Linked DNA regions of Homo sapiens. The protein of the gene in region 1 interacts with the protein of each later gene in a pairwise test. Each region holds a gene or a part of one and is shown in the gene's direction. Other genes may lie near its edges.

Evidence for each region.
Region 2: the proteins of RBBP7 (region 1) and H4C14 interact in binary tests that used the Homo sapiens proteins (3 or more experiments, as listed by UniProt).
Region 3: the proteins of RBBP7 (region 1) and H4C12 interact in binary tests that used the Homo sapiens proteins (3 or more experiments, as listed by UniProt).

What each region holds. Positions count from the first base shown.
Region 1 is NC_000023.11:16,856,830-16,860,492, reverse strand, and holds part of RBBP7 (histone-binding protein RBBP7), read left to right. Parts: intron 1-1,643; coding exon 1,644-1,817; intron 1,818-2,783; coding exon 2,784-2,899; intron 2,900-3,663. UniProt on the Homo sapiens protein: Core histone-binding subunit that may target chromatin remodeling factors, histone acetyltransferases and histone deacetylases to their histone substrates in a manner that is regulated by nucleosomal DNA.
Region 2 is NC_000001.11:149,831,136-149,833,563, forward strand, and holds H4C14 (histone H4), read left to right. Parts: upstream 1-1,521; 5' UTR 1,522-1,549; coding exon 1,550-1,861; 3' UTR 1,862-1,917; downstream 1,918-2,428. UniProt on the Homo sapiens protein: Core component of nucleosome. Nucleosomes wrap and compact DNA into chromatin, limiting DNA accessibility to the cellular machineries which require DNA as a template.
Region 3 is NC_000006.12:27,830,563-27,832,742, reverse strand, and holds H4C12 (histone H4), read left to right. Parts: upstream 1-1,182; 5' UTR 1,183-1,215; coding exon 1,216-1,527; 3' UTR 1,528-1,569; downstream 1,570-2,180. UniProt on the Homo sapiens protein: Core component of nucleosome. Nucleosomes wrap and compact DNA into chromatin, limiting DNA accessibility to the cellular machineries which require DNA as a template.

The sequences.
Region 1 (3,663 bases):
ATGGTCTTGCTTTCCTGACCTCATGATCCGCACGCCTTGGCCTCCCAAAGTGCCGGGATTACAGGCATGAGCCACCACGCCCGGCCAATATTGAGTTACATTTTTTAATGGATATTATCATTAAGACAGTGACTTTTCAAAATTTTAAGTTTGAGAAAACAAAACTCTGTGTTCAAAGTAAATCCTACTTGGAAGCCCCGCCCCCCCCCCTTTTTTTTTTAAAGGAGAGCTCTTCAGGTTGTTTTAGCTAAAGGAATCAGGAAACTTGAGTATCTTTGTAGCAGAAGGGTTAGAGCCACTGGAGTCCATGGAATGGGATGTTGAAGGTCAAAGTGGAGCAGATTTGGAGCAGTCTCAGGAGGGAGGAGACGATTGGATCAGGAGGGGTCTTAGCATGCCGAGGCACATTTCTTCCATTGACACCATGGAACAGAAGGTGCTACGAGGAAAAAGGATCCTTTTGCATGTGGTCACATGAGAGTAGTGGGTAGAGGAGCTTTGGAGTAATCGTGGATTTGAGATACGGTTTTTTCAACCACACTGAAATAGTAAGCTATGTTTGCTTCAGAGAGGAACGGCTAGATACTGATATTAAGACATGGAAGCGAGTGTTCATTAAGCATTCCACATAGAAGGAGCTGCCTGGAACTGAGAAATGGTTTGCTCCTTTTGGTGGTTGCTCCAGGCCCCGGTCTATTTTACTTCTTACCTGTCTGGCTCCAGTAGGCATTTGTGTTAGTTGTCCCTGACCTGAGACACAGGGTGAGCTAAAATGGAATGTGCAAAGAAAAGGCAATATAGGTCAGGAAGAATAACACAATTGTAATGTGAACCCTCCTATCTTTTTAAGCGTCAGCAACTAATTCAGGTTTTTTTATCTATGAGCACAAAAAAGAATGTTCTTGTTTGCTGTATTTGCTTAGATGTTCTCTACTTGTATTCTTTCTGCTAACATGTTGCTACTTCTTGGAAGTTACCGTACTTTTTATATGACTTTGTTACTTTACAAGGCCTTTTTCATGATTATTTAATACTATAGTCTTATTCACACACCAGATGGGCGGAGAGGTTAACCTTGGCACTGCACTAGCAGTTAAACCAAGTATGCTGGCAGGGCCAATGTATGTGTGTTTAGGGACAGGTAGGGGTTAGCGTGGGTTTCTGATTGATTTGAGGATGCTTCTGACTTCAGACTCAAAGGGTGTTCATACTGTGGAGGGTTAAAACCTTTCCTGTTTTGATGAATCCTAAAATAAGATGCTAATTCAGTGCAGTACTTACAGTGAGTTGTATTTGAACTAAAAAGCTATTGGTCTGCTTATTATATGGTTACTTGAAATTTCAGTGAATAACTATATCATCTTCATAACTGAAAGAGGACAGTTGTTTTAGATCCAAGGTGGAACTGAATTAAGTTGCATAAGGCAGCTACCAATATTTTCCAGTGCAAATGGGCTTTAAGAATAAATTGATGTGGCAAATGAACCCACATTTTTGGGTTTTCTCTATGCATGTTTCTGTCTTTGTCTTGTCAGTTTGTGTTGTATTCTGCCAGGTCAAAATCTGTTAGGTTGATTGAACTAAGTGATTTGTGAATTTTAATCCTGAGTGTGTGTGTGTGTGTTTCTTTCTCCTCACATTAGAATTTGGTGGCTTTGGTTCTGTAACAGGAAAAATTGAATGTGAAATTAAAATCAATCACGAAGGAGAAGTAAACCGTGCTCGTTACATGCCGCAGAATCCTCACATCATTGCTACAAAAACACCATCTTCTGATGTGTTGGTTTTTGACTATACAAAACACCCTGCTAAACCAGGTATGTAATAATAGAGTTAGGTCATTACTTGAGCAGTTTTCTTGATTCAAACTGGTAATGTTTTTAAGGTCAAAGTAGCATACTTTATAATATTTAAAGGTTTAAAAATTGCTTTGGGGGTCCCATAACCATCCTCAAGTTCAGGGATTTGCCAGAACTACCTAAAAGCAGCTTATACTAACAGCTAAAGTTTATTACAGCAAAGAATCCAGAGCAAGAGTAGGAAGAAAAAGATACACATCAGGGGAAGTCCAGAGGGGTTAGCTACAGGCGTCTGAGTCCTTCCCATCCAGGGCCACGTGGGACATGTTTTGTCTCTAGCAGCAAACCATAGGAACATGTGCTAAATGTCTCTACCCAGGGCAGCCCATTTGAGTTTCAGAATCTGGGATTTTTGTGGAGGTCTGTTGGCGTGGGCACATCCTGTTCTATGACCAGCCATGGTAACAAAATTGAGGACCCCAATAGTGAAGCCAAATACATTGTGAATCTTGCTAAACAATCCTACAAGTCTTGACAGGTCCCTATGGCATACCCCACTGCTCTGGGCTTACAAAACTTTATCAGTCAGTGACGTGAAGAACTTTCTGAGGGTCACATTCCCAGGGGTTGGCCAAGGGTCATTTATGGTTGCAGGCTACCCTAGAGGCATGCAAGGACTGAGCAACCAGACCTGTTGTGTTAGAAATATTTCTAAAAAATTGGGGGGTTGCGGGGATACGGTCACCACTGCCCAAATTTGTAGGATAGCTATAGTTTTTAATATTTTTGTGTTGGGGATAGTATTAGGTTTTCCAAAGAAACCAATCATCTAATGGTCATGAGGCTCAATTTGCATTGGGTATTAAAGACCAGATCTCGTTCGTGTGCAGTTGCTGTAATGGTTCACTCAATGAAGGAGTGAGAATTTATTCTCACCAGTTCTGATAAACAGAGAATAACTTAATGTTTTTCATCTTTTCTTAGACCCAAGTGGAGAATGTAATCCTGATCTCAGATTAAGAGGTCACCAGAAGGAAGGCTATGGTCTCTCCTGGAATTCAAATTTGAGTGGACATCTCCTAAGTGCATCTGATGACCATGTGAGAAACGTATTCTTTGTAATTTGTTCATATAGTGAGAGCTGACGTGTCACAGCTGTGCTGAAGGAGTACTATATAGATGAAAGGTTTTCTAAGATAATACTGCTGATTATTGTGGTAACATTCCCCCAGGACTTTAGAGAGATGGTTTTCATACTGCCCTGTATGAGTCTTCGGATTCCACAGAGCTCTTTTGAAGTAGCCTTAGAATGGAGGGAGCATAGGCAAAAGGCCTCCCATTATTTAAAAGAGGACCCTCCAGGCCCTTAAAATGGAAACTGTAGAGTGTTTGTGGGACCTGATTAATATAAAGTATTTTTTAAGTGTACAGTTCAGTGGGTTTTAGTATATTCACAAAGGTGCACAACTATTGCCACTAATTCTAGAATGTTTTCATTCGCTCTCTGAAAGAGAAATTCCATACCCATTAAGCAGTGACTCCCCACTCATTCCCTGCCTTCCCCCAGCTCCTGGTAAGCACTAATTTATTTTCTGTCTCTATAGAGTTATCTGTTCTTGGTATTTCATGTAAATGGAATCTCATATATGGCCTTTTCTGTTTGGCTTCTTTCACTTAGCATAATGTTTTCAAGTAACATTACTTATGTTCCATTCCTTTTTATGGATGAACAATATTCCACTGTATGGATATACCACAGTTAGCTTATTTGTCAGTTGATGAACCATTTGAGTTCTTTCTACTTTGGGGCTATTTTGAATTATGTTACAAGCATTTGTTTACAAGTTTTTGTGTAGATGTATGT
Region 2 (2,428 bases), on another chromosome or scaffold:
GGAGATTATAAGTTTAAACATTTTGATTTCGGGAGATTTTGAGTTTTGGGCTTAAAATGACTGAAGAACCACCAGGTGGATCTACGTGTCTCGAGTCCAGAAGTCTGAATACAGATTTACGATTTATGAGCACACAGAAGGTGGATCCAAGGGAGAGATTAAACAGGGCACAGAAGAGTTTTTAAAAATAATATTTTTCGGGAAAAAAACCCCAACAAAACACGATTCTTTCAGCAGAAACCAGAAGATTTTCTCATAGACTCTCCTACAGAGAGCCCTGATAAAGTAATAAACATGCTAACAGTAAGAACCCCAACCAATTTCATAGGGCAGTTTGCGGTAACTACTCCCAGTATGGAGCAGACAGTCCTCTTGCAAAACCCGATTTAGCAAACTTTGCTAGCTCCATGTGGGGCCTCCAAAGGACACAGCTGGGCACTAAATCCTGGCTGAAAACAAAGGCCGATTTAGAGGATCCGTAGAAACGGATGCACAGAATATCCCTCAGTCTTCTCTATGTAGCAGGCCCTCCATATACGCGGGTTCCCCAAGACCGAAAATATTAAACAAATGAATTTCTTTTTTAAAAAAAAGTACAACAAAAGATAGTAAAAATAAAAACAGTATAACAATTACTTACATAGCATTTACACTGGATTAGGTGTTACGAAGTAATTTAGAGACTATTTAAAGTACACGGGAGGATGTGCATAGTTATGTGCAAATACTACGCCACTTTCTATGAGAGACTTGAGCAACCTGGATTTTGGTATCGGCGGGGGCCCTGGACCAATCCCCTCTCAGTTCTACCGAGGGAGAACTGTTTTGTTTCTTCCAGCACGGCTTTGACCGACAGTGTGTTGGGATTCGCTGACGTCCATGAGAAAGCTTGGCAGCATGCTGAGACCAATTTTCCCAGGGCCAGAATTCTCCTGTGTGAGCTAAAATACAGTGGCTCGGTCCAACAAAACAGAGCCTGGAGCCAGGAATTATGGCGAACCTGCTCCCTCCCGTCCTCCCTTGGCGCACAGATCCCTGGCGCCGCCGCTCTTGAGGTCGCCTCTCGCGTGTCGACCTCATCGTCGGAACGGCGCTTCCTGAAGCTTTATATAAGCACGGCTCTGAATCCGCTCGTCGGGATTAAATCCTGCGCTGGCGCGCTCCTGCCAGTCTCTGGCCTCCATTTGCTCTTCCTGAGGCTCCCTCCAGAGACCTTTCCCTTAGCCTCAGTGCAATGCCTTCCGGGCGTCCTCAGACCAGACACAGGCCAAAGCCACTACAGAATCCGGAAGCCCCGGTTGGGATCTGAATTCTCCCGGGGACTGTGGCGTAGCGGTTAAAAAAAAAAAAGAGTGAGAGGGACCTGAGCAGAGTGGAGGAGGAGGGAGAGGAAAACAGAAAAGAAATGACGAAATGTCGAGAGGGCGGGGACAATTGAGAACGCTTCCCGCCGGCGCGCTTTCGGTTTTCAATCTGGTCCGATACTCTTGTATATCAGGGGAAGACGGTGCTCGCCTTGACAGAAGCTGTCTATCGGGCTCCAGCGGTCATGTCCGGCAGAGGAAAGGGCGGAAAAGGCTTAGGCAAAGGGGGCGCTAAGCGCCACCGCAAGGTCTTGAGAGACAACATTCAGGGCATCACCAAGCCTGCCATTCGGCGTCTAGCTCGGCGTGGCGGCGTTAAGCGGATCTCTGGCCTCATTTACGAGGAGACCCGCGGTGTGCTGAAGGTGTTCCTGGAGAATGTGATTCGGGACGCAGTCACCTACACCGAGCACGCCAAGCGCAAGACCGTCACAGCCATGGATGTGGTGTACGCGCTCAAGCGCCAGGGGCGCACCCTGTACGGCTTCGGAGGCTAGGCCGCCGCTCCAGCTTTGCACGTTTCGATCCCAAAGGCCCTTTTTAGGGCCGACCACTTGCTCATCTGAGGAGTTGGACACTTGACTGCGTAAAGTGCAACAGTAACGATGTTGGAAGGTAACTTTGGCAGTGGGGCGACAATCGGATCTGAAGTTAACGGAAAGCTACCGCGGCCCATAGCGCTCACAGCCGTAAAGACTTAAGTCGTTGACCGAAAGCGGCTTTTTCACTTACCTGGGCTTTTTTTTTTTTTTTTTTTTTTTTTAAAGCCTTTATCGGTATGAAAGGTTGAATGCTCTAGGTTTGAGCACTGCTTTCTCGGCTTGCTCTTCTGGTGCAGTATAGGCACACCTAGAGGGCCACGTCAGTCTTTGCGATCACCAAATCTGGTTCTGAGAAATAGGCACTGGCAATTTACACATGCCTTGCTGTGTAATCTCACTATATTTGCTCAGGCAAAGTGGGAGAAGCAGCCTTAGGTTTTCATTCTAGAGATGCCGGCTTTCCCACCTGATCGGCTTAGAGTTCACGATTGACTGTTTTGGGCTTCATTTCACCCTCTACAT
Region 3 (2,180 bases), on another chromosome or scaffold:
AAGCGTCCAAGCGAAGCGGCTCACGCCTGTAATCCCAGCACTTTGGGAGGCTGAGGCGGGCGGATCACGATGTCAAGAGATCAAGAGCATCCTGTCCAACATGGTGAAACTTGTTCTTTACTAAAAATACAAAAAATTAGCTGGGCGTGGTGGCGCATGCCTGTAGTCCGCGCTAATCCGGAGGTTGAGGCATGAGAATCGCTTGAACCCGGGAGGTGGAGGTTGCAGTGAGCCGAGATTGCACCACTGCCCTCCGGCCTGACGACAGAGCGAGACTCCTTCCAAAAAAAAAAAAAAACCCCACACACAAAACCTACAAACACCAATTTTCTAGTTATAAGAGCTTGTTTTAAGGATTTTAATTCTATTCCAATTAAGTCCTAAAGCTAATGCAATTATCAAAATCTCGAAGAGATTTTATTCAAACTTCACAAAAGGTCTCTAAAGTTGTCCAGAAACCTTGGTGAAACAGATTAGGAAATTTGGAAAGGAAATAATGCGGAGACCCGTAGTACCAAATCATGAGACCTCTAATACAATTTTAAATATTAATGTAATAAAATTTAAATTTTGGTGTAATAAAATCATAAATTTCAATATTGGTCCCAAGTATAGAGAAAAAGTACATTTATGTTGAATGTGGAAAACATTATTTTTAAAATACAGCCGATTAAAAAATTGCTGGGGAACTGATTATAACTATTGATAATTCCTAAGAAACATAGACACCAAAACATCACTTTTATCTCTTTAATAGAAATTGGTTAAATTATAATCAATATAAGGAGGTTACAAAACTCCATATACAACACTGTATACATTTTCTTGGAAAAATATGTGCAACTGCTCTGCAAAATACATGATTAACTAGCCTGTGTGATGGGATAACATTGTAGTTTCTTAATTTCTTGTCCTTTCTTGTATTTCCCACAGTATTGATGTATATCTTCTGCGTTCAAAAGCAATTTTTTAAAGCCTCATAACGTGGTAACAAAATACTATGCACGTTACAAAATTCAGAACACGGAAACAAGAAGCTCGCTTTTTTTTTCCCCCTATTTCGGTTTGGCCCTTTAGATTTCCCCTCCCCCACCGGGGCGGGACTTCCCGCCGACTTCTTTCAGGTTCTCAGTTCGGTCCGCCAACTGTCGTATAAAGGCGCTGCCTCAGGCCAGAGTCCTCACAAAGCGTTGGGTGAGACTCCTCTTGCTCGTCATGTCTGGCCGCGGCAAAGGCGGGAAGGGTCTTGGCAAAGGCGGCGCTAAGCGCCACCGTAAAGTACTGCGCGACAATATCCAGGGCATCACCAAGCCGGCCATCCGGCGCCTTGCTCGCCGCGGCGGCGTGAAGCGCATCTCCGGCCTCATCTACGAGGAGACTCGCGGGGTGCTGAAGGTGTTCCTGGAGAACGTGATCCGGGACGCCGTGACCTATACAGAGCACGCCAAGCGCAAGACGGTCACCGCCATGGATGTGGTCTACGCGCTCAAGCGCCAGGGCCGCACCCTCTACGGTTTCGGTGGTTGAGCGTCCCTTTCTATCAACAAAAGGCCCTTTTTAGGGCCCCCACTTTCTCAGCTGAGGAGCCGTGATGCTTGTTTGCCCAGTTTCTCTTTACCATTTGTTCGCGCCTGCTGAGTTTGTGCTGCTATCGGAGCATGCGTCTCTAGTCGCTGTAAGTAGGCATCAGTCACTAATCGCTCTCCAGTAAATAAAATACCCAACACAACTTGTTTCAGGTGCTCCAGAGCTTACTGACATGGGCCGTCGCGCAGACTGTAGTGCAGTGTCATCATGGCTCACTGTAGCCTCCCGATTAGCCGGAACCTCGCGCCCACCACCACGCAAGGCTAATTATTTTTCCAAAGACCGGGTCTCCGTGTGTTTCCCAGGCTAGTTTCGATATCCTGGCCTCAATCCCCTCGCCTATGCCTAATGTTGGTATTACAGTAGTGAGCCACCACGCCTGGCCACGATACTGTTGAGGTTTTAGGGTTAGTTACATTTAAGGGGCAATTTTCGCAGTGTAGTGGGGAGGAAAGTCAAGCAGTTATAGGTTTCTGGCGCTGTGAATCCAACTGCTGAACATAGCAAGAACTTATTATGCAACAACCTTTAATCAGTGGACCGTAAATAAGTTTAGTTTATCGGTTTTGGCCCAATTCTTGAGAAAGGTGAGA